Homo sapiens: one gene and its partners. The protein of the gene in region 3 purifies or fractionates together with the protein of the main gene of each other region. This does not show direct contact. Each region holds a gene or a part of one and is shown on either strand. Other genes may lie near its edges. The genes, in order: EDC3, SYNRG, ARHGAP18, NBR1, CLINT1, MRI1 and BMP2K.

Region 1 (3,500 bases), on a different chromosome or scaffold from region 3:
CTACTTTGTTTGTTTTGAGATGCAGTTTCACTCTTGTTGCCCAAGCTGGAGTGCAATGGCACGATCTCGGCTCACTGCAGCCTCCACCTCCCGGGTTCAAGCAATTCTCCCTGCCTCAGCCTCCCAAGTAGTTGGGATTACAGGCATGCACCACCAGGCCCAGCTAATTTTTTGTATTTTTAGTAGAGACAGGGTTTCGTCATGTTGGCCAGTCTGGTCTCGAACTCCTGGCCTCAGGTGATCTGCCCACCTCAGTCTCCCAAAGTGCTGGGATTAGAGACATCAGCCATCATGCCCAGCCTCAGCTATCTACTTTCATGTTCTACAGGCAAAAGAGCCTTAACTTAACTGTTAAATTTTTATTCAACTGCATGTTACAATGACTATTCAAGCTCATAGACTAAGATTTCAGAGAGGGATGCCTTTCATCTGCCCCTCATGGTCACCATTTTCAGCTGTGACATGGGATTTGATAAATATGAATTATACCCATACACAGAGCTGCACCCTAAACAAGGCTTGGTTTCCCTCTGCTCCCTGGGACTGATGTTATGTCTATTTGACAAACATTCTGAATGGTCACAGAAAAACTATTCTTTACATGATTCTTTAAACCCACTCCCACCCGAAAAGAGATTAAAATCTGCTTGTGCTAAATCATCAGTGTTGGATTAGCTAACTATTATAAACCAACAAATTCCTCAACTCCTTATTGCAATCCTGAAAGAACACTTAAAAGCCAGAACTGAAGACAGATTATATTTCTTTCTTTCCTTTTTTTTTTTTTTTTTGAGACAGAGTTTTGCTTTGTTGCCCAGGCTGGAGGGCAGTGGCACAATCTCAGCTCACTGCAACCTCCGACTCCCAGGTTCAGGCAATTCTTGTGCCTCAGTCTCCTGAGTAGCTGGCATTACAGGCACCCACCACCACACCCAGCTGATTTTTTGTATTTGTGTACAGACGGGGTTTCACCATGTTGCCTAGGCTGGTCTCAAACTCCTGAGCTCAGGCAACCTGCCCGTCCCAGCCTCCGAAAGTGTTAAGATTACAGGCATAAGCCACCACACCCGGCCGACAGATTATATTTCTATAGCTTCATCAATCTACTAGTCTCAATATCAATGTACATAAACTGGAGAAAATTCTAAGGCAGACCTTTTTACTTACAGGGCTCAATGAGTGGAAAAATAATTATAACTCTACCTTCTATCAGAAACCTATTCTGAGCCACGTCTTATTGCCATTCCCAGGCCACAAACATTTTCCAAACTAATCTGGATTCTACATAAGTTTCTTGAAAAATAGTAACATTTTACTGCCCTATGATCTCTTTACCTCATTTATGTACAGTTAACAATCTAGAAAAAGGAAACTGACAAAACAGCAAAAGCAGAATAACCAAAACCTGGAAGCCACCAAGATGTCCTGCAATAGGTGAATGGGTAAACAAATTGATATATCCACACAATGGAACATTATCCGTCAATTAAAGAAATGACCTATCAAGTCACAAAACGACATGAATGAATCTTAAATGCATCTTGCTAAGTGAAAGAAGCCAGTCTGAAAAGGGCTACATACTGTATGATTTTAATTATGTGATATTCTGGAAAAATGCAAAACTGCAGGGATGGTATAATAAAAAGATCAGTAGTTGCCAGGGGGAAGTGGGGGAAGTTGAACAGGTAAGGCACAAGAGATTGTTTAGGACAATGAAACTATTCTGTTTAATACTGTAATGACAGATACATGATGCTATGTATTTGTCAAAACCCACAGAATTTTACAGCACAAAGAGTGAGCCTTAGTGTTTGCAAATTTTTAAAAATCATTTAGGAGGTTAGAAGATCCCAGGATGGAATGCAGAATGTGATAAAACAAATTAATTGTATTATGAATATATGAAACAAGTCAATGAAGGAAATGGGAGACCTAAATAACTCTAGAAATGAATGGAGTCAGATGAAAGGCAAAAGAAACAGTACGTAAGCACCACATTCTGTTTGATAGTCTCCCACAGGAATGGCGATACAAGTTAATAATTCTGATACCACTATACATGTATACTGGAATTGAATAATTATGTAAAGAATGAATGACAATAGGAGACAGGTTTCTCACTGTTGGAGTGAGAAGTAACAGACAAGCAAAAGGAGAAGGCTAGAAGGATCCATGTGGTAATGGATTAAAGTTGGAGACATCAGTATGAACTCATACTTAGTATAGTACAATATACATAGTTACATATAGAAATATTTAAATATGTATATATATGCTGGTTAAATATACACACATATATTTTCTTTTCTGTGAACTCTGCAGAGAAGTATACACATTTTCTTGCTGTCAGCTATAAGGGTGACACCCAGGAGCAATGAGCATCCCTAGTGAAGAAGAAAGAAAGGAGAAGGGGGGAGGAGGGAGGGGGAGAGGGAGGGGGTGGAGGGAGGAGGAGGGAGGAGGAGGAGGAGGAGAAGCAGCAGCAGCAGCAGTAGTAGTAGTAGTAGTGGTAGTAGTAAGCATCTTTCAGTGTGAGAAAGTACCTAAGTACTAAAAAAAAAAAAAAATAAAATCCACAATGATTGGAGTATGTCAAAGGGACATGAGATCCAAGTGAAAGATTGGAGACTAGCCAAAACTGAAATAATTTGAGTACCAAAATAAAGTAATATTGAATTATAAGCCAAAGTATAAAATAAATACCCATGAGTACATGCTGATATAAATAAATGACTGAATAAATAAACAAATGGGGGAGAAGAGAGGAATCTCTGGCATAAAAGAATTCCAAGTAATGTCTGAAGATGCTGTGTCCTCAAGGAGAGGGGACATAACTTCTCACTCCCTGGGTGTGGGCTGCACATAGTGATTTCCTTCCAAAGAGTACATATGTAAAGGGGAAGAAAGAGTCACTTTACAGAGGAGAAACTAGATATATCCTACTTTAGCCAGGTGATCAAGGTGAACATCAAAAGTTATAAACCATGGTGATAATATATACACTTGACACAAGGTGATGAAAATGGTACTTTACCTCTGTTGTCTTCCACCCCCAAACATATAACCCCAGTCTAATCATGATTTAAACATCAAGTACCAACTGAGAGACATTCTACAAAATACCTGACCAGTATTCATCAAAATGTCTAGGTCATCAAAAACAAGGAAGGTCTGAGAAACTGTAAGAGCCAAGCAGAGAAATGACTACCAAATATGATGTGATATGCTGGACAGGATCCTGAAACAAGGGCATCCGGGTAAAAACTAAGGCAATCTGAATAAAATATGGACTTTGTTTAATGATAATGCATCAACATTGGTTCAATAATTATAACAAGTATACCATACAAATGTAAGACGTTAATAACGGGGAAAAATGTGTAGAAAAAAATAATATGAATTGCTAATAAGGGTCATCTTCAAGTGCACGGAAGATTATAAACTGCCTATTTGAACTTCTAACAAATCAACAATTTCTGCTAAAAGAAAAAAGATTTTCA
Region 2 (3,500 bases), on a different chromosome or scaffold from region 3:
CCACTTTGGGAGGACCACTTGAGCCCAGGAGTTCAGGATCAGCCTGGGCAACATAGGGAGATAATCATCTTTACAAAAAAATCAAAAAATTAGCTGGGCGTGGTGGCATGCACATGTGGCCCCAGCTATTTGAGAGGCTGAGGATCTCTTGAGCCCAGGAATTCAAGGCTGCAGTGAGCTGTGATCACGCCACTGTACTCCAGCCTGAGCAACAGAGTGACTGGACGGCTTTCCAAGATTGAGACCTACCCTTTTAACCATTGTGTGTGTGTGTGTGTGTGTGTAGTGAATTAGATAATGCATATAAAGAGCTTAGTATAGTGCTTGAAAGTAAGGGCGTATTAGCTGTTGTTCTATTTATGGTCTTTAGCTGGTGACCTTCAGATCTCTCCACAAGCAGGAGGCCTGTATGTGTATCCAACCACCTGCTTATATAGCATGTGGCCTTCGCTGTCCCACAGGCAGCTCCAGCTCAGCTTGGACCAAACTGAACTCTTCTCCTCAGCTTCCATCCTCAAACCTGGTCCTTCTCTCACGTGTCTTATTATGGTGAATCCTCTCAGCTGCCCGGGTCCCCCAACCTCTCCCATCCAGCAGGTCACCCAGGCCTGCTCATTCTCCTGCCTCGTCAGCTCTTTCACGTGCCCATTTCTCTCCATTCCCCACCGCCGCTGCCTTCATTCTGACCATCGGTATCTGTCTCCAGGACTGCTACAGCAGACTTCTGGCTGAGGCCTGTGCCCTGAGGATTGCCACCCCCAATTCATTGCCTATACTGTAGCGAGAGGGATCTGTCAGTAATACGAACCTGGGCCTGTCGTGATCCAGTTGGAAGCCTTAGTGGCTTCCAGGATGCTCCTTATCTTCCTTGGAGTCCTCGTGCTGCGGCTTCATCTCCTCTTTCCCTGGGCCCTGCCCCCACCCTCTAGATTCCTTCCCATACCCCATCTTTAGCTCAGAGCCTTTGCCTGTGCTGCTTGTTCTGCATAGAATATCCTTCCCTCCCCTACCTCACCCAACCCTCCTGTCCCCCTCACCTAGCAGCTCCCATCTACACTCAGCCAAGGTGATTTTAGAATCTAGGAAGCAGGCCAGGCACGGTGGCTTATGCCTGTAATCCCACCACTTTGGGAGGCTGAGGCGGGTGGATCACCTGCAATCAGGAGTTCAAGACCAGCCTGACCAACATGGTGAAGCCCTGTCTCTACTAAAAATACAAAATTAACCAGACGTGGTGGCGCGCCTGTAATCCCAGCTACTCAGAAGGCTGAGGCAGGAGAATCGCTTGAACCCGGGAGGCAGAGGTTGCCGTGAGCTGAGATCACACCATTGCACTCCAGCCTGGGCGACAGAGTGAGACTCTGTCTCCAAAAAAAAAAAAAAAAGAAAAGAAAAAGTTCTAGGACGCAGTCTCTGGCTTCAGGCCCCATCCTCCTCGAGTTGGGCTAAGTGCCGCTCCCTTGTGCCCTGGCACTCAGGACTTCCCCCAAGTAAGCACACCCAGCACTCATGGCACTGCACGGGCTCCCCTGGCGCCCACCTGAGACTGAGTTCTCAGAGGTCAGAGGGCGTGTTGTACTGGTGCCGGCCTTCCTAGCACCTGGAACCGTGGCAGGTTCCCAGTGGATGTGTGGGAGGTTAATTCTTGTAGTGGTGGTGTTAGAGTACTGTACTTGCCGCTAGGCCTGCTGGGGGTGAGTGATGAGGGAGTGAAGTGAACAGCGTGTGGACTTGTGGACTTCTTACCCATTTGTCTTGTCGTCCTCACAGCCAGATGAAAACTCGCTGGATTTTTCCTCCTGTATGTTACGGCCTGGGATTAAAAATGCTCAGGAGCTTGCCTGTGGAGTGTGCCTCTTGAATGTGGACTCGAGGAGCCGGGTAAGTCACGCAGCCTCCTTGCAGACAGCAAAGGGCTTCCCTAACATGACTCTGGACAACCTCATCTGGCCCACTTTACTGCAGAGTTTGTGACCAGAGGTGGGGATTTTCTCAAGTCCTAAAAGCTGATGGTAGGAGCAGACACATTCCCTCGAGAGGGCAGCGGGGGAGCTGTGGAGGGAATGGACGCGGCTCTCATGCCTGCAGCACCCTGTGCATAGTGGGGAGGTCAGGGGAAAAGGGTGAACCTGTAAAGATGTGTTTGGAGGCAAGAGGCCCTGTTCTGGGAATGTTGTTGACCTGTGGTTTCAACGTTATTTCAGAAAGAAGAGAAGCCTGCAGAAGAACATCCTAAAAAAGTATGAACCAGTTACACCTTATCTTAGCGTCTCCATTTTAATTTTGAGTGTGGAGGGCAAATTGGATGATTCTATCCATTGCCATCCTGAACTGTTCCAATCATGAATCCTTCACTGAGTCAGTTTTGTTCCCATAATGTTTGATGGAGTCTCCTAATGTGTCTGTGTGGGTCCACTTCTGTCTTATTTGCATGCTTGTTTCACATAATTGGCTTCTGGTGTTGCAGTTATTTTTCTCTGTGATGAATGGGGTGACAGAATGAGCAACTTCTGGAAGCCTGGAAGTTGTAGTGACACACAGATGGAGATCAAAGAGCTTCAGGATGTAGCCATTTAGCCATTTTAACAGACAAGCAGCAAATTGGGTTTTAGAGTTTTGTTTATTTGCAGTGCATATTAGAAAACTAACCCCAGGAAGTGGTTGAGGTTTGGACTCTACTTTTCCATGGCTGACTGTAGCTTACTGATAAGCCTGTTCATCTGGAAATAATTCTTATGTGTTTAATGCCCATTCATTTCGAGGCATTTTTTTTTAACTCCATACCTGTTTGGACTTTTTGATAATGTAGATTCATTAGGCATTAGGGTCAATGCCATTAGACCCTAAGAGTTGTTATCTGTCGTTCTCTAACTCTCTCGTTTTCTAACTCTCTCGTTCTCTAACTCTCTTGTAATTTTTTGTCATGATAGGCTTGTGGTCAGCTACAGGAGTGTAAAGGATTGCATGCTGTAGTCAGATGCCGGCCTTAGGAGGAGGGCTTCCTTCAGCACAGTGAGGGATGAAAGCTATCCACAGCCCTTGGCTACTTCAGTTCCCCTTATCATGATTCCCCCCCTCCACCCCATAACCTCTGTCTGCCTTTTCCATGGAAGATTTGGCCACCTTTTGCTGAAACTAGGTTTAGTGGTAACAATTTTATACCTTTAATTAGCAGTAAAAAACCTTCTCTCTTGAATTCCTGTAGCTATCCGCTCAGCTTTTATGTGTGTGCCATTTTGGCCTCAGCCTCTGTGACCTGGAGAGATAGATGTACATGTTGGTTGCTGAAAAGCTCTGAGATGCAGAAAAAGCCTGACTTGCCCCACATCTCTGTTTATTTCTGGCAGGCATTCAACTCAGAAACAGACAGTTTCAAGCTGGCCTATGGAGGGCACCAGTATCACGCCAGCTGTGCCAACTTCTGGATCAACTGTGTCGAACCAAAGCCTCCTGGCCTCGTCCTGCCTGACCTGCTCTGAACAACTCCTCTGTGAAGCATT
Region 3 (3,500 bases):
GAACAATGGAGACTTAAGGAAAGAGATTCACAAACATGTCTAGACTTAGGCTTGTTGGCCCCTGTCCTAATTCCCACCCATCGCCACCCCAAGGTTGCTACTGGGGAGAGAGTATAGTGATTGTTTATTCATGTATGCAACCAGCATTAATAAAGTTTGTAATCAAGGCAGGAAGAATCATCTTTAAAGGAATAAAACTGGCTTATTAGCATATTAAAGCTAAGTGCTCAGTTATACTGCATTTATTTGCAGCAATAAACAATTAAGTTCCTTGCCTTTTTCTAACCAGTTGGAATTAAGCTGCTGGATAGATTCGCCCAGAGTTTAGTGACCCTCTCCCTTATGTACTATTAAAATCCTACTATTTTAAACAATTTTGGGAAAGGTTAGTTTAAATGTGAATGTTCACACACTATTATTTTGTTGTAATTTTAAAATTATTTTCAATATGTACAGTAAGTAAAACCAATCTGGCAAACAAAGAATTACTTCCTGGAAGTCCTTCTTGAGAGAAGCAATCTGAAAATTAGAATAGCAAAACAGTTATTCAACTATTGTCCTCACTCAAATTGTATTCTTTAAAAAAATTTATTGTTAGTCCATTCTCACGCTGCTTGTAAAGACATACCTGAGACTGGGTAATTTGTAAAGGGAAGAGGTTTAATTGACTCACAGTTCAGTATGGCTGGGGAAGCCTCAGGAAACTTAAATCATGGCAGAAAGGGAGGCAAACACACCCTTATTCACATGATGGCAACAAGGAGAAGTAACAAGCCAAAAGGGGAAAAGCCCCTTATGAAACCATCAGATCTCATGACAACTCACTCACTATCACGAGAACAGCATGAAAGTAACTGCCCCCATGATTAAATTACCTCCTGTTGGGTCCCCCCAGGACTCATGGGGCTTATGGGTACTACAATTCAAGATGAGATTTGGGTGGGGACATAGCCAAACCATATCAACCGTATATAAAGGAAAGGCATCAAAGCTGAAAAATTTCTTCTTTTAAGGAATCGGGCATGGTCTTCTCTATAAATAATAATAAAACAAAAAATTATTTTATTATATATAGGTTTTTATTATAAGCTCCTTTAATTCAATTTTAGAAGTAGGTAAGATATGAATTATAACAAAAAACATTGTTTACTTGAAGTTATACAAATACTCTTATTTATTCAATTTATTCTTCATAGATAATATCTGAGAGAGAAATGTTTGAGGTAATTCCAAGCTATTCAGAATTGCTAATAAATGAGTTTGTACCCCAGTTTTGAATTTTTAATACATATAAATCATGGGTCCATTTATAAATAAAGATTAGAAATTTCTTTCTACAGTAGATTATAACAGCAAACTTAAATCATCCTATTTATATTTTGATTTCAAAAATAAAATGGAAATTCAAATAGTGCTTCATCGGTTGAAGATATTTGCTGTATAAGAGTTGACTAAGTTTGGTTTATGAATATAAATGATAAACACAAGAATTATATAAAATTCATTCCCAATTAATAGTCTGTAATCAAGATTTAATGTGTTGCTTTTTAAAAACAAAGTTTCAGGTTTAAATGAGTCTTATGCCTGGGTGTGGTGGCTCATGCCTTTAATCTCAGTGCTTTGGGAGGTTGAGGTGGGAGGATCAGTTGAGGATCATTTGAGGCCAGGAGTTTCAGACCAACCTGGGCAACACAGCAAGACCCCATGTCTGCCAAAAAAAAAAAAATTAGCTGGGCAATATGGTATATACCTGTAGTAGTAGCTCCTCAGGAGACTGAGGTGGGAAGATCACTTGAGCCCAGTAATTTGGAATTAAAGTGAGCTATGGTCACATTGGTGCACTCAAACCTTGGCAACAGAGCAAGACCTTGTCGCTAAAAAATATATTTGAAAAATGAGTCTTCATTTAATGTAAATGGAAAAATAATTTACCATGTTGCTATTTGTACTTCCCCATACTTTTCTGTGGAGCATGAAACTGTTTATTCTACAAGCATATTATAATCCATAGTAAACTGTTCCAAAATATATATTCCTTTAGTTTTATTAAGGATAACTTAAGGAGTTAATAAATTCTCCAGCTTGTTGCTGTGATGTCTTAGAAATTATACTGCTTCCTTTTGTACTAAAATAAACCATGGGTTCTTTTGAATTTACAGTCGCAGATATGGCCAGTACACTATGAACCAGGAAAGCACCACCATCAAAGTTATGGAGAAGCCTCCATTTGATCGATCAATTTCCCAGGATTCTTTGGATGAACTATCTATGGAAGACTATTGGATAGAACTAGAAAACATCAAGAAATCTAGTGAAAACAGCCAAGAAGATCAAGAGGTGGTTGTTGTCAAAGAGCCTGATGGTAATAACTAACTAAATAAAGCTTTTGTTGTTTGTATATGTATTTATAGGAAATGAATGCATAGAAAGGAAGAGAACAAAAAAAAAATTAAAGCTAGGACCACCAAAAAAAGATACTGCCTTTCAACTTGAAAAATACTTGTTTGAGGCAGATTTATGGATGCAACTGCCAGATACAAGTGGCATAAGTAAGTTAGCTTAGTCATAGATATGGCTGGAATGTTGTTGGCTAAGCTCACTGTATCATAGCTTTTTAGAGTTAGACTTCATCTTTGAAACCATCTAACCTCCCTTTAAATTTCTTCTGTGATGTGGTAGCCACATTGTCATTTGGTCTCTAGTGAGTGCAGATGGTGATAGAGCACTGCTTTGCAGTGAGACTGTTTTTCCAGTGGTCAGTCAGCTTGAGTTCTTTTGATCTTTGTTTTATTGATTTATAATCTGCTGTCCTCTAACTTTGACTCTCTTGCTGTAGTTATGCCTTTGGGACGAACAGAAGAAGGCTCTTCTATTTTTACATGATAGCCTTTCATATACTTGAGAATATTTATCTTGTTCCTAGCCAAGACATTTCTAGAAAGAAAATTCACATAAACCAATTTTTGTGGGTGGTTTTCAAAGACCTGTTGTGGTCCTGGCTATTTTGTCATTCAAAGTATACTTCTCCAGATTGGATGCAACGGCTCATGTTTAGCCAACTAATCTAAAAATATAGAGTTGGACAGTAGATGGTGGCATTACTGTTTTTAGCTTCCATATTTACTTCTTTCTTGTATTTGGTGCATAATTTCTGTAGAGTCACTTTCCAGCCATATTTCCCATTCTCTGCTATAATATTTGATATTCTGGGAGAAACATGTAAAACTTTAAAGTTTTTTTGTACCGTTTCTTTTAATCTCTGAAATTCAAGCAGTTGCTAAGTTTTTCATGTCCAATTCTCTTGTCTGTTGTATTAGCTTTCTTTCTATGCCTTGTGCCATCTATACATTTGTAAGTATGTTTATATAAGTTGATGTATAAATGCCAAAATGTGAGAGCCCCAATCAGTGCTTTGTGATCCACTAATAGAGACTTCCTTCTCAACACAATGACTTCTTAACTAAATGACTTAGGATCTAATTAACTAGCAAAATCTATAT
Region 4 (3,500 bases), on a different chromosome or scaffold from region 3:
GAGAGTGAAGGGCAAGTTTTTTTTTTTTTTTTTTCAGACGGAGTCTCGCACTGTTGCCCGGGCTGGAGAGCAATGGTGCGATCTCGGCTCACTCCAACCTCCGCCTCCCAGGTTCATGTGATTCTCCTGCCTCAGCCTCCCAAGTAGCTGGGATTACAGGTGCCCGCCACCATGCCTGGTTAATTTTTGCTATTTTTTAGTAGAGACAGGGTTTCACTATGTTGGCCAGGCTGGTCTCGAACTCCTGACCCTATGATCCGCCTGCCTTGGCCTCCCAAAGTGTTGGGATTACAGGTGTGAGCCACCACGCCTGGCCTGTGAAGGGCAAGTTTCAAAAAACCACCAAGAATCACGAAGAGAGAGAGGCTATTTATACCTGGTTTCCATTAGACAGGAGCAGAGAAAAAGAGAAAAAGCTTAGGCTGATCATTACCTCCTCTGATCTGATCAGGGACTGAAGAAACTTCTGGTATGGTAACTGGTAAATCCACTCCTGGGGAACCATGATGATGTACACAAGGAGAGCTCCTTTCAGAAAGACACAATATGGAAAGTAAATTGAAAAGGCACTTATGGCAACAGTGGAGAAATAGTAAACACAGCACAGCAGTGCCAAATTCTCTACAGAGGCTTCACATTTCTGATCCAGATCACATGTCTGGATTTAGGGTTCCATCATAAGGGCTACATTCTACCCCATTTTCCTCTTTAGCCACAGGCAAGCTAGAAATGTTGGCTTCAGTCTGGTCATGTCCCCACCTATATCAAGTGGTGTCAATAAACGGAAATGTCTAGCTTTTGGGGAGAATGGTTTACATTATAGTCAAGGCTCCAGCATTTTCCCTACTATTAGGAGACAAGAATGATTCAGATAGATTCACCAGAGAATTAAAAATAATTAGTTTGGTTTTATAGTGTTTTTTCCCATAATGGATTTAACTTCCTAATTATGACTGTTTGGGTTGAGTTTTTGCTGCCTTTACTGAAGAGTCAATAAAACAAGGAGGGAAGGTCCAGGGATGTTTGTGTTTAAAAACTGGCTCTCAGCCAGGCATAGTGGCTCACACCTGTAATTCCAGCATTTTGGGAGACCCAGGCAGTTGGATCGCTTAAGGCCAGGAGTTCAAGACCAGCCTGGACAACGTGGCAAAACCCCGCTTCTACAATAAATACAAAAATTAGCTAGGTGTGGTGGCCCATGCCTATAGTCCCAGCTACTCAGGGGGCTGAGGTGGGAAGATTGCTTGAGCCTCAGAGGCAGAGGTGGCAGTGAGCCAAGATTGTGCCACTGCACTCCAGCCTGGGCAACAGACTGAGACCCTGTCTCAAAAAAAAAAAAAAAAAAACACAACCAGCTCTCAATAATCAAAATATAAGCAGACAGACTATACTCAGATAATTTAAGGCCAACTAAAACAAATATTTCTTTAAATCCAGAATCCACAAATACTGGGAAATACAACTTTTATTCATCTAAATTCAGACTTTGCTATGGAAAATAGTCTCTTTCCATACTGAGGAAAAAACAGGTTTTGAGATCAGGTCGATTCCTCTCTTTATTTCACCTCTGAAGAACACCCCAGCTGAGGGGGCTGTGAGTGGTACCTGGGCAGTGACGGTGGAAGCTCCACTACCTCTGGGATTAGGGGCACTGTTTCCAGAGTCTGTGAGGTCGTGAGGATGTCACTTATGCTGTGCTCCTGTGGCTGGTTCTCCCCTCCAGGGAGTCTTTCCCCAGCCTCAGCTGGTTCCTGCCCAGCCTCAACCCCAGGCTTGCCTTCAGCACCTCGCTCCAGGCCTGGCTGTGAGAGCGCAGAGCTGTACATAGAATCCCCCAGGGGGCGGCTGGTATCAAAGCACTCAGGCAGGATGATGATGTAATCCTCTGAGGAAGCAGAGGACTGACTTTGAACTTCATCTTTGAGCTCATCCTCCTCCTCCTCATCCTCCTCATCCTCCTCCTCCTCCATGACAGCTTCTTCCTCAGCGATATGGATAATCTCCTCCTTCTCATTTCCAAGTGGTCCTTCAGGCAAGGCAAATGTCACTAAAGGATGAAAGCAACCAATTTTAAGGTGGAAGCTAAAAGCAGGCCTAAGTACTATCCTTACTTGGTAAAGCCTTGTGGATCATAAGCTAGAATTATGAAAGCCAGAGGAGAGGGAAGAACTAAAGGGAAGGGCTGGTTCTGGAACTATGACCATATTCTAAGTTTGAAGACTATGCAAAACAAAATAGAATCAAAGCTCACAGAAACAAGGTAGGCAGAAACACTCAGGTTTCCAAGAAGCTCTATGAATCATAAAAGGAGGCAGCTCCATCCCTTTTTTCCTTTTTATGTGATGGTTAATATACTGAGTAGAGTTTAAACCAAAACTGATACACTAACAGTGCTATAAAAAGAGAAAAAGTTAGGAGATGAGTATTGCAGGATTATATGTCTATCTCCTCCTCTTCTTTACAAAGATGATGCAGTCATGGGAGAAAACTGGCCAATCATGTTTGAGAGGGTAAAAAAGGATAGAAAAAAGCTACCCAGGGCCAGGCACGGTGGCTCACGCTTGTAATCCCAGCACTTTGGGAGGCCAACGTGGGCAGATCATGAGGTCAGGATATCAAGGCCATCCTGGCTAACACGGTGAAACCCCATCTCTACTAAAAATACAAAAAAATTACCCGGGCATGGTGGCGGGCGCCTGTAGTGCCAGCTACTCGGGAGGCTGAGGCAGGAGAATGGTGTGAACCTGGGAAGGCGGAGGTTGCAGTCAGCCGAGACCGCGCTGCTGCACTCCAGCCTGGGTGACAGAGACTGTGTCCCAAAAAAAAAAAAAGCTACCCAGGCCAGGTGTGGTGGCTTACGCCTAAAATCCCAGCACGTTGGGAGGCCAAGGCAGGCAGACTGCTTGAGCTCAGAAGTTTGGGACCAGCCTGGGCAACGTGGCGAAATCCCATCTCTACAAAAAAAAAAAAATTTAGCTCATTGTGGTAGCATGTGGCTGTGGTCCCAGTTGCTTGGGAAACAGAGGTAGGGGGACCCCAGGATGTTGTGGCTGCAATGAGCCATAAACTTGCTACTCGCACTTTAGCCTGGGCGAGTGAGACCTTATCTCAAAAAAAAAAAAAAAATTACCCATAAATCCTATCAGAATAACAGCTGTGAACATTTTGGTACTGTCTTTCCAGACCTTTTTGTTATGTATTTGTACACACATGTGGAAAAAAATATAAAGATATACATGACTGATTGATTTGAGATGGAGTCTCACTCTGTTGCCCAGGCTGAAGTGCAGTAGCATGATCTCAGCTCACTGCAAGCTGCACCTCCCAGGTTCACGCCATTCTCCTGCCTCAGCCTCCCGAGTAGCTGGGATTACAGGTGCGCCCGCCACCACACCCAGCTTATTTTTTGTATTTTTAGTAGAGATGGGGTTTCACCGTGTTAGCCAGGATAGTCTTCATCTCCTGACCTCATGATCCGCCCACCTCGGCCTCCCAACGTG
Region 5 (3,500 bases), on a different chromosome or scaffold from region 3:
TTACCTGTTGACTGGCTGGTGCCATCAAACAGATCAACAAGGTCACCAGATGACTTGCTGCTAGGCACTGAAGTCTGAAAACACACACATAACTCAGGAGCTTCGAAAAGTTTGTTTTTCTAAAAATCAGCTCTATCCATCTCTAATTCTCAATTTAGACATAAATACCTGTAATTAGCTTAATAAGGGTAGGGTTTTCTGGAAAAAGAGTACTGACCTTGAATCCTTATGGAGAGGCAGCAAGCACTTTTAAGTACCTCCATTCCCAGCAGTGTAAAAGTCTCTTAACATTGACACTTTTTTTCCTACCTCACTTTTCTGACTGCATTTCACTCTGGAAAATATTAACTGCCAGATCCCACTTGAATCTTAATGCTAAGTATCAGTTCATTAAAAAAAAAAAAAAAAAAAAATACCCTAGCATATGTACCAGTCCCATACAATACACTGAGTCATAATTGCCCAGGTATAAAAAGGCCAAGACCTTGGCCTGTTAAAGTCTTACAAGAAAGCTCCCTAGATAATTCCAAGGCTTGAGATCCACTGGATTAGAGGTCAAGATCCTAAACAGCTCTAAATTTCTATGAACCTTAGCAAAACTTATTGTTTGTATATCACACAAGTTAGTATAATTCTATGTTATTTGATATATTGATATGTTTCATATTTAGTTCCCCAACTAAACTGAGGCCTATACCTGTAATACTATTTTTATCTTCTCCACAAAGCTAAGCACCCTGATACCTAAATACCTATGTCCTATATGTTAGATATATACATGCTAAATTAGAACTCAATTATTAGGCAATGGGGAAACCCTAAGATCCTAGGCATGTTGATTTGAACTTTGAAAACTAAAATACTATATACTGTGATTCCAAAACACCTTTAAGAACAGATCCAAATGAGTTGGGTAACTTTCTAAGAACTTCAACCTTCTAGACATTTTTTTTGAGGGGAGGAGGGTAAATGAAAACAAAAAAGAAAAAGCTTGTACTGCCGGGCGCGGTGGCTCAAGCCTGTAATCCCAACACTTTGGGAGGCCGAAGCAGGTGGATCACTTGAGGTCGGGAGTTCGAGACTAGCCTGACCAACATGGAGAAAGCCCGTCTCTACTAAAAATACAAAAAAATTAGCCGGGCATGGTGGTGCATGCCTGTAATCTCAGCTACTCGGGAGGCTGAGGCAGGAGAATCACTTGAACCTGGGAAGCAGAGGTTGCGGTGAGCCAAGATCGCGCCATTGCACTCTAGCCTGGGCAACAAGAGCGAAACTCGGTCTTCCAAAAAAAGAAAAAGAAAAAGAAAAAGCTTGTACTACAAATATAAAATATTTATTGCAGAGTGTCATATATTCAGGCTATACTACAAACTGTTATTTAAAATCCTTTAAGATATGTGATAAAAGTCTCTATTATTAAAAAAATTATACAGATATTTGGCAAAAGCTGACATGGTATTTGTTATTGCAACTAAGCAGGCCTGGTTTTATTTTCAGAGTCACCTACAATCTGCTGCATACATTAGAAAACTGTTTTTCCCAGCTTTTAGCTATTTCTCTTGCAAAGACACAAACTGGGGAAACAGTAGTCGGGGAAAGTGACAAAAACAATAATTTAGTCTTTTGAGGCAAATCTCCCTATTTGGCAGATTTCTGTTGAAAAGACTAGGGTTTGGCCAGGTACCTAGCAGGTGGATTTCATCTCTATGGTAAATAAAAACAAACGAAGATGGTACAAGAGGCAGTGCTTCTTTTGATACTGATCAGTAATGACTGTGAGGCAAACACGCCTCCCTTTATAGGCAACGTTTCTACATTACATGAGATAACTTGCCCCTATATATCTCTTCTTACTCCCTCGTTTGTCATTTCTTAAAACTTTCAAATACTTCCAATGTTTTCTTTAGTGAATCTACTTGTGGTTGGTAACCAGTATTGTCTAGATGGGGACAGAGGCACTACATTCTGATTCACAACCTTCCCCAAACAAACCAAAAGTGTCATTTCTACTTTCATAGAAAGTACCCAATCATTCAGCAATTGGACAGGTTTCTCCCCTCAAAGAGATTTCTTATTATTAATGTCTCTTGGTAATACATGCCAGATGATCCATAATTAATATGATTGCCTAGAAATGCCCAAGCCTACTAATGCAGGAATTCGAAGAGCGGTTTATAAAAATAAAACCATGTATAATGTGTAAACTACTGCCATTCCCACCTTAACTGAAGACTGAGGTGTGTGGGTTGAAGCATTCTGATCTGGACTTGCTTTGTCCCCTGTGTAATGTGCTGCTGCTCCAAGATCAATGGTTTTGGAAGGATTTGCTGTGCGCTTGTGTCTGGTTGTGGTGGTCTCTGTGGCCTGTGTGATATGAATATGCTTTGTCGTCACAGTCTCCTCTTCATCTTTGAATTCACCTTTGGGAGATCTGCCTCTTCTCGCTTTCTTTTCCTCATCGCTGTCGCTAAAAGATATTAAAAATGAAGCAAAATAATAAGACGGGATTATTTTAAAATGGGTCCCTCAGTGATTTGAGCTAAAGAATTTCAAATACAGTAACTCCAAAATTTCATACTTTGACTACTTGACAGGGATCAACAGAATGTTATCTAAGCTGTCTGAATAATGATATATGTGCGCTGGGGAGGGGAAGTGGAAACACAGAGAATATCCTATATAAGTCTAAAATACTGCTACAAAAAAGTATTTACATAAATGTGTATAAATAAAAAATGTCAAAATAACTCGTTTTTATTACAGATTTAAGCTTAACTTAAAAATAAAATAGGATTTGATATCAGAATCCATGATAAGACCCTGAGAGTTCAAACACTTGCATGTGATGATTATTTTCTTGACATGGACTGTGTGCAAATTACTATAGTTCCACTTTTACAACACAATTCTGCATCAACTCTCAAAGACTAATGTGTGTACATAATAAAATAATAAAAGTTCAATGGATGCTAAAAAAATCACACATCTTAATTCGAATAATTAAACTCATCTGTAAATGCATGAAAATATAAGGGAATGCACTTTACAACTGTGCTATTTTACTATAGTATCAGGAGATCAAACTTTTATATAACTATAGAAAATGCTTTCTAGAAAACAACTGTATTTAAAATATTTTAAAGATAATTCTCCTTCAGCCACATTCAACAATTTTTTCTTTCCTTTTTCTTTAATAGTGAAAAAGATTTTAAAAACTAAACAGTAAAAGCCTGGGTTTTTCATATGCTAGGAATGAAAATATCAGCCCTAGTCTGTTCTCTAGTAACAAGTCATTGGGTTTTTTTCTGATGTAAGTAGGAGAGAGAGAGAGAGAGAGAGAGAGAGCGAAAGAGAGAGAAAGAGAGAAATGTTACTTGAAACATGTTCCATTACCTGTATTACTTAATTTTAGAGTAGGTGGTTTAATTTATAAATATTCTGGAATATAATGTTTAAAATTCTCCTTTAAACTGCTGATGCAATTTACCTCAGACTGAACT
Region 6 (3,500 bases), on a different chromosome or scaffold from region 3:
CTCCTGAGCTCAAGTGATCCTCCCACCTCAGCCTCCCAAAATACTGGGATTTCAGGTGTGAGCCATTTTACCTGGCCCCATAATGCTAATATTGGTTCATGCTAATATTTCATGAACTGTTTTTTCTTTTTTTTCTTTGAGATGGAGTTTCACTCTTGTTGCCCAGGCTGGAGTGCTGTGGCGCTATCTTGGCTCATTGCAACCTCCGCCTCCCGGGTTCAAGCAATTCTCCTGCCTCAGCCTCCTGAGTAGCTGGGGTTACAGGCATGTGCCACCACGCCCGGCTAATTTTGTATTTTTAGTAGAGGCAGGGTTTCTCCATGTTGGTCAGGCTGGTCTTGAACTCCCGACCTCAGGTGATCCGCCCGCCTCGGCTTCCCAAAGTGCTGGGATTACAGGCGTGAGCCACAGCGCTCGGCCTTTTTTTTTATTTTTGAGATGGAGTTTCGCTCTGTCACCCAGACTGGAGTGCAGTGGTGCAGTCTCAACTTACTGCAACCTCTGCGTCCTAGGTTCAAGCAATTCTCATGCCTCAGCTTCCCAAGTAGATGGGACTACAGGCATGTGCCACCACGCCTGGCTAATTTTTATATTTTTTTAGTAGAGACGTGGTTTCGCTCTGTTGGCTAGGCTGGTCTGGAACGCCTGACCTCAAGTGATCCGCCCACCTCCGCCTCCCAAAGTGTTGGGATTATAGGCGTGAGCCACGGCATCTGAGTGCATGAACTATTTAAAGGGCCAGTCATTGATCTAAATGTCCTGTGGGTTAATTCACTGACCGCCCTTGGGTTTATGCAGCAGGTTCTAGCCATAGCCCATTTTACAGATAGGACCAGTGAGGATCTTAGGGAATTAGAGAATTTAGGGAACTTGCTAACGGTTGCACAGCCAGGAAGTATAGGCAGCTAAGAAAAGTCTTGCAGCTAGGCATGGGAGCTCACACCTGTAATCTCAGTGCTTTGGGAGGCTGAGGCAGGAGGATCGCTTGAGGCCAGGAGTTTGAGACCAGCCTGGGGAACATAGCGAGACCCTATCTCTATGAAAATAAACAAATAAAAATAAGTGTAGAAATATCTTGCTTTTTCTTTTCTTTTTTTTTTTTGAGACAGAATCTCACTCTGTTGCCCAGGCTGGAGTGCAATGGTGTAATCTCAGCTCACCACAACCTCCGCCTCTCAGGTTCAAGTGATTCTCCTCCCTCAGCCTCCTGAGTAGTTGGGACTACAGGCGGGTGCCACCATGTCCGGCTAATTTTTGTATTTTTAGTAGAGACGGGGTTTCACTATGTTGACCAGGCTGGTCTCGAACTCCTGACCTTGTGATCTGCCCGCCTCGGCCTCCCAAAGTGCTGGGATTACAGGTGTGAGCCACCTCGCCTGGCCGTCTTGGTTTTTCTTTACAAACACGTGGCCAGCCAGATATTCTTATTTCCTCTTAAGAAAACCTAAGTGGAGAATAGCAAGACAGTTACTCAAGATCATTCATATAACCGGTTAGTTGTAAATTCCAACATTGGATCTGACCTCCAGGATGCACCTGTTAGAAGAAGTGGCTTGGGCCAGGCGTGCTGTGGCTCACACCTGTAATCCTAGCGCTTTGGGAGGCAGAGGCAGGCTGATTGCTTGAGGTCAGTAGTTAATAAATAGCCTGGTCCACATGTTGAAACCTCATCTCTACTAAAAATACAAAAATTAGCCAGGCGTGGTGGCACCCACCTATAGTCCCAGCTACTTGGGGGGCTGAGGCAGGAGAACTGCTTGAGCCCGGGAGGTGGAGGTTGCAGGGAGCCCAGATCGTGCCACTGCACTCTAGCCTGAGGGACAGAGCAAGACTCCATCTCAAAAAAAAGAAAAAAGAAAAAGTGGCTTGTAGGAGCTGTGTATGTTCCAGAAGGATGACAAGGACCTGCATATCACCTGCCTCCATGAAGTGCCCAGGAGCTGGGGTGTCCCCTTTCTGAGGGGGCAGCTTACCAGGTGCTGCAATCCGGACCCCATTAACATCGGTCAGCTCCTGGCCCGGTCGCTCTTCAATAATGATCTCCTTGCCGGTCTCCAGACGGAGGTCACATGAAGAGCTGGGGGCAGCCACGTAGAAGGGAATGCCATGGTGCTTGGCGACAATGGCCAGCTGGTAGGTGCCCACCTTGTTGGCTGTGTCGCCGTTGGCAACCACGCGGTCAGCTCCCACGACCACAGCTGGGGAGGGGGCGTATGAGAAGTTGGGGGTCATTACCTGGCCCCATGCTCCAGAGCCCCGCCCCCAGGGCTTACCGTCTGCTTACCTGACACGCCCCTATGGGCCATGGCAGCAGCCACCATGCTGTCGGTGATAAGGGTGGCGGGGATCTGCTCATAGACCAGCTCAAAGGCCGTCAGCCGGGCTCCCTGGTTGTAGGGCCGGGTCTCTGTGCAGAAGGCATGCTCCAGGCGGCCCAGGCTGTGCAGTGAGCGAATCACACCTGCGGGGGCCCCACCCACCAGGAGAAGGCCCCGGGGAGGGGCAAACAGACAGGGTGGTCCATTGGTTAGGGGTGCAGGCTCCTAGTCTGGGCGTGGATTGCCAAAGGCTTACCGAGCACAGTCCCGCCCAGGGGCCCTCGCAGTGGCAGTTCCCTCTGCCTGGTATGCTCTTCCCAATGCTCGCATAGCTCCGTTTCACGTCTGTTTAAAGGACACCTTCTCGGTGAAGCCTTCCCTGATATATCAGTTTTGCATAGCAATCCCCACACTTTCAGTTTCCTGCTCTCTGTCCTTAGCATTTATCACCTTCTAACACCTCATGTGTACAGGCAGCCCCCCTTTTCTATGGGTTCTCCATCCATGGACTCAACCATGTGGATTGAAAATATTTGGGCTGGGCGTGGTGGCTCACGCCTGTAATCCCAGCACTTTGGGAGGCCTAGGCAGATGGATCACGAGGTCAGGAGATCGAGACCATCCTGGCTAACACGGTGAAACCCCATCTCTACTAAAAGTTCAAAAAATTAGCCGGGCGTGGTGGCGGGCACCTGTAGTCCCAGCTACTCGAGAGGCGGAGGCAGGAGAATGGCGTGAACCTGGGAGGCGGAGCTTGCAGTGAGCCGAGACTGCGCCACTGCACTCCAGCCTGGGCAACAGTGCAAGACTCTGTCTCAAAAAAAAAAAAAAAAAAAAAAAAAGGAAAGAAAGAAAATACTTGAAAAGAATCGCTGGAACCCAGGAGGCAGAGGTTGCAAGGAGCCAAGGTCGTGCCATGGCACTCCAGCCTGGGTGACAGAGCAAGACTCTGTCTCCAAAATAAATAAATAAATAAAAAGCAATCCTCCCATCTCAGTCCCCTCCCGAATAGGTGGGACCACAGGTGCATACCACTACACCCAGCTAATTTTAGTATTTTTTGTAGAGATGGGGTTTTGCCATGAAGCCCAGGCTGGTTTTGAACCCCTGAGCTCAAGCGATCCGCCCACCTTGGCCTCCCGAAGTGCTGGCATTACAGGCTTAAAAATAGAGACAGGGTCT
Region 7 (3,500 bases), on a different chromosome or scaffold from region 3:
ACAGGTGAATAGACCTTGGTTCTACCCCCAAAAAGCTCAGCATCCAAAAAAAGCTGTCAAAATTAACCACAAAATGTAAAACAATTTCACAATTGCATGTAACATACTTTTTTAAAAACTCAGCCACCTTTGTAGAATAAATAAAAATACAATGTCAATAAAGCAAGATAACTACAAGGGGGCATCTGGGTTATTTTTTTTCTTTCCTGTTTCAAGTTGTTAAGTGAAATGACACTGCCTTAACGGTTGTTTGTCTTCACCAAACTAGAAAACACAGAGTCCTCTGGCCTAAGTACAAAACCTTTGATGGTCCAGTAAAGAGCCCTCCATTGGTGCTCTTCAATTTGCAAATTAGGCCTTAAATTCTACTGAAGATCATCATCTGATTAAAAATAAAAAAATCAAGCACCATTTCCTTTGAGAAGTAGCTGAATGTTCATGGTATGGCCAACTTGTGTGATACAACATCAATTAAAACAGAGTCTGTCTAGCCTTAAGAATTTTACTATCTGGTAGTGGAGATGACAGAGGAACAGTAGTTAACAACCTTAGTGTTTCTAGGTGCTTACATAATTCCATCTCAAGACAGGTTAAATGTGACAAGAGGGAAAAAAGCAAATAGTTACAAGTGTCCACAGAAAGGAGGAAGTGATCATAACCAGTACTTAGGAAACAGGGATTACAGAGACAAAGGCAGAGTGCTAGGCAAGTACAAGATTCAGTCACGGACCAACAGGGAGTGGAGCACATTGCACCAGGCGCAAAGAGTATTCACCTAGCAAATAATTACAGGTAAGCTTTTAAAGATAAGAAGTGAGCATGAATAACTGTGAATGCCAGGCGAAAAAATGTGATCAAGTAAGATGACTTTGCAGCAACACAACTGCTCACTCCCTCCCCTTCTTGAAATACTCTCAAGTTTCCAGGTATCAGAGTGTCCTGGTATTCCTCATACCTCTCTAGCACCTTCTTCTTAGTCTTCTTCGCCCGCTCGAAATCAGTGGTACTCGGTACTCAAGACGTGGTTCCTGAACCGGCAGCATCTGTATCACTGAAAGAGTGGGCCTCACTCAGACATAATCAAAAGTTGGGGACCAGGCTCAGCACTTCTGTTTTACCAAATCCTCTGAATGTTTACAATGAACACTAATGTCTGAGACCAATGCACTATAGGAGTCCTTCAATGAGCACCTTCTCATTCTACACTCTCCCTACATCCATCCTCTCCCAGGGCTTTAAATAACAGCCAGGGCTCACTAATCAATCAGAAGTACCATCTCTAAGCCCAAACACCTTTGCTGAGTTCCAGACGACATACCCAGCTTCCCATTTGATATTTCCTCTCAGATATCTCATCCAAACACATCTCTAAACATGTCTGAACTACTGGCTGTCCTCCAAACACCTCAAAAAAAAAAAAAAAAATCTGTTCCTTCCTTATGTTCCCAAACGGTACTTTCACCTGAGAGATACATAAGCAAGTAATTCCTAACACTTCCTATGACCACCACAAGGTCTTCCCATTTAAGCATTATCATCTTCATCCCCACTGTCATCATTTTAACCTTATAATTTGTATACCTCTCTATACAGCAATCAGCATGATCTTGTAAAAATACAAATCAGAGCATGTCACTGCCCCAATTCAAACCCTTCAATAGCTTCCTGTTGCATTTCAGATAAAACCTAAACTCCTCAGCATGGTATACTAAGCCCCGGACCCTGGTCACCTTGCCAACATCATCTTGGATCTCTCTTACATGTGATTCATTCATTGTAGTCCACAGCTCTGAGCATATTTCAGTTTCTGAAACTTCCTTCCCTCACACAGAGACTTCAGTCTTCATGACATACTTCAAATCACCCCAACCTCACACCTCTGTTTTTACCTAACTTTCTTCATCCTTCAGGTTTCTGCTAAAAGATCAAAAAGGCCTTCCTTGACCCCCCAGTCTAAACTGAATTCTCTCATAAAACCCTGAGCATTGTCTTCACGACACATATAAAAAATTTTAACTATAGTAACTTGGTGATTTTTGTTGGCTTGTTTAGCTTTTACCTTCCACACTAATCTGTAAGTTTCATAGGCCAGAAGAATACCTCCACTATTGTCCTCTACTATGTTAAGTAGCACCTAGCAGTGCTTAGCACACCAAAGGCATTTAATGAAGTTGTGTAGTAGTAACAGTTGTTGATATTTTTATTCGATCCTTCCCTTTTTTCTATCCTCTCTATCTTCTCTTCGGAATGTGAACTTACAAGTTACTGGGCAGCCACAGATGCTTTCTGCAAATGAGATATAATGCTTAAATCTATCATTTCCCTACTAATTTATAGTGCAAAATCAGATGTATAGTACAACCTTCCTGAAAAATTAACAACGAGAACTGGCTAATACTTAGCTTATCTAAGCATTTAACTCTAAGAGAAATACTGAGCTATTTTTAAAGAACCCTGTAGTAAATTCCTGGCCTCCAATTACTAACAATCCAATAACCCCCAACACCCATCTCAGTAAATCTTACCCACATCACCATATTCACACTATCATTCCTACCCAGCCCCCATAACCTCGTGATTACATTATCTCAACAAGTTATCTCTGCTCTCCCAGTCTCAACACCCCATTTTAGGTCCATTTTGTACCAAGGACATTTAGGGAAAACAATGTCCCCTACTCAAAAACCAACTTATTATCAATCAGTATTAAATTCCTCAGACTAGCACCAAAGGCTTGTTATGGTGATGCATGTGGTCAACAAGCCAACCCCAGGTTTTAGTAAAAACTTGGAAGGTTACATTGAATTAATTATATGAGCCTGACAATTTGTCACTGTTTGAAGCTAAAACCAACATACCGCTCTCCCTCATTTCTACAGACCAAAGCTGGGATCTGCTTAGTACAGACTCCTAAACATGTTTTTGAGAAAAAAAACATGAACTGCCTCACTATGTTATCAGTCCTTTAAACTTTGAGGAGGAACTAAAAAGGTGCAAGTTCTATTTTCAAACACTTATGTGCTTGACTACAAAGACATTATGATACAAAGTATATAATGTTTCAGAGAGAAAACTTTAACAGTTTAGTTATAACATACAACCTACCCCTGAGAATCTGCTTTTCAAATTATAGACATAATATGTGCATATACATATCTACCTATAACAAAGGTTGCTCCTCATTAGTTGAGGATACTATATTTACAAATTCATCTACTCACTAACATTTATTTGTATCCCCAAAATCATTACTCATAGCACTTCCACTGTCATTGCAGACATGTGCACAATGGTGAAAAATGTGAGTCTACTGACGTGCACATTCTAGTTTCAGCTTACATAGTGTAAACAAGTGTCCTTTTCATGGTCTATTTAGTGCCATGTTTTTCTCATTTTTGTGCTTGCTATTGGTGATTTCACTGTTGAAAACAGTCCCTAAGCGTAGTGCTAAAGTGCTGTCTAGTGTTCAAGGAGCAAAGACTACAGAGAAAATACAAGTG

What was found.
Region 1: the proteins of ARHGAP18 (region 3) and EDC3 purify together in Homo sapiens (affinity purification with mass spectrometry; one large-scale study listed by BioGRID and IntAct). This does not show direct contact.
Region 2: the proteins of ARHGAP18 (region 3) and SYNRG purify together in Homo sapiens (affinity purification with mass spectrometry; one large-scale study listed by BioGRID and IntAct). This does not show direct contact.
Region 4: the proteins of ARHGAP18 (region 3) and NBR1 purify together in Homo sapiens (affinity purification with mass spectrometry, with the first as the bait; one large-scale study listed by BioGRID). This does not show direct contact.
Region 5: the proteins of ARHGAP18 (region 3) and CLINT1 purify together in Homo sapiens (affinity purification with mass spectrometry; one large-scale study listed by BioGRID and IntAct). This does not show direct contact.
Region 6: the proteins of ARHGAP18 (region 3) and MRI1 fractionate together in Homo sapiens (co-fractionation; one large-scale study listed by BioGRID). This does not show direct contact.
Region 7: the proteins of ARHGAP18 (region 3) and BMP2K purify together in Homo sapiens (affinity purification with mass spectrometry; one large-scale study listed by BioGRID and IntAct). This does not show direct contact.

The regions. Positions count from the first base shown.
Region 1 is NC_000015.10:74,665,025-74,668,524, forward strand, and holds part of EDC3 (enhancer of mRNA-decapping protein 3), read right to left. Parts: intron 1-3,500. UniProt on the Homo sapiens protein: Binds single-stranded RNA. Involved in the process of mRNA degradation and in the positive regulation of mRNA decapping. May play a role in spermiogenesis and oogenesis.
Region 2 is NC_000017.11:37,518,919-37,522,418, reverse strand, and holds part of SYNRG (synergin gamma), read left to right. Parts: intron 1-1,770; coding exon 1,771-1,881; intron 1,882-2,204; coding exon 2,205-2,240; intron 2,241-3,347; coding exon 3,348-3,479; 3' UTR 3,480-3,500. UniProt on the Homo sapiens protein: Plays a role in endocytosis and/or membrane trafficking at the trans-Golgi network (TGN). May act by linking the adapter protein complex AP-1 to other proteins. Component of clathrin-coated vesicles.
Region 3 is NC_000006.12:129,640,678-129,644,177, reverse strand, and holds part of ARHGAP18 (rho GTPase-activating protein 18), read left to right. Parts: intron 1-2,159; coding exon 2,160-2,362; intron 2,363-3,500. UniProt on the Homo sapiens protein: Rho GTPase activating protein that suppresses F-actin polymerization by inhibiting Rho. Rho GTPase activating proteins act by converting Rho-type GTPases to an inactive GDP-bound state.
Region 4 is NC_000017.11:43,198,714-43,202,213, reverse strand, and holds part of NBR1 (next to BRCA1 gene 1 protein), read right to left. Parts: intron 2,048-3,500; coding exon 1,606-2,047; intron 529-1,605; coding exon 434-528; intron 1-433. UniProt on the Homo sapiens protein: Ubiquitin-binding autophagy adapter that participates in different processes including host defense or intracellular homeostasis.
Region 5 is NC_000005.10:157,803,646-157,807,145, forward strand, and holds part of CLINT1 (clathrin interactor 1), read right to left. Parts: intron 2,468-3,500; coding exon 2,221-2,467; intron 75-2,220; coding exon 5-74; intron 1-4. UniProt on the Homo sapiens protein: Binds to membranes enriched in phosphatidylinositol 4,5-bisphosphate (PtdIns(4,5)P2). May have a role in transport via clathrin-coated vesicles from the trans-Golgi network to endosomes. Stimulates clathrin assembly.
Region 6 is NC_000019.10:13,767,522-13,771,021, reverse strand, and holds part of MRI1 (methylthioribose-1-phosphate isomerase), read right to left. Parts: intron 2,664-3,500; coding exon of another isoform or gene 2,575-2,663; exon of another isoform or gene 2,462-2,574; coding exon 2,285-2,461; intron 2,199-2,284; coding exon 1,974-2,198; intron 1,445-1,973; coding exon of another isoform or gene 1,425-1,444; exon of another isoform or gene 1-1,424.
Region 7 is NC_000004.12:78,779,350-78,782,849, reverse strand, and holds part of BMP2K (BMP-2-inducible protein kinase), read right to left. Parts: exon of another isoform or gene 956-3,500; intron 1-955. UniProt on the Homo sapiens protein: May be involved in osteoblast differentiation.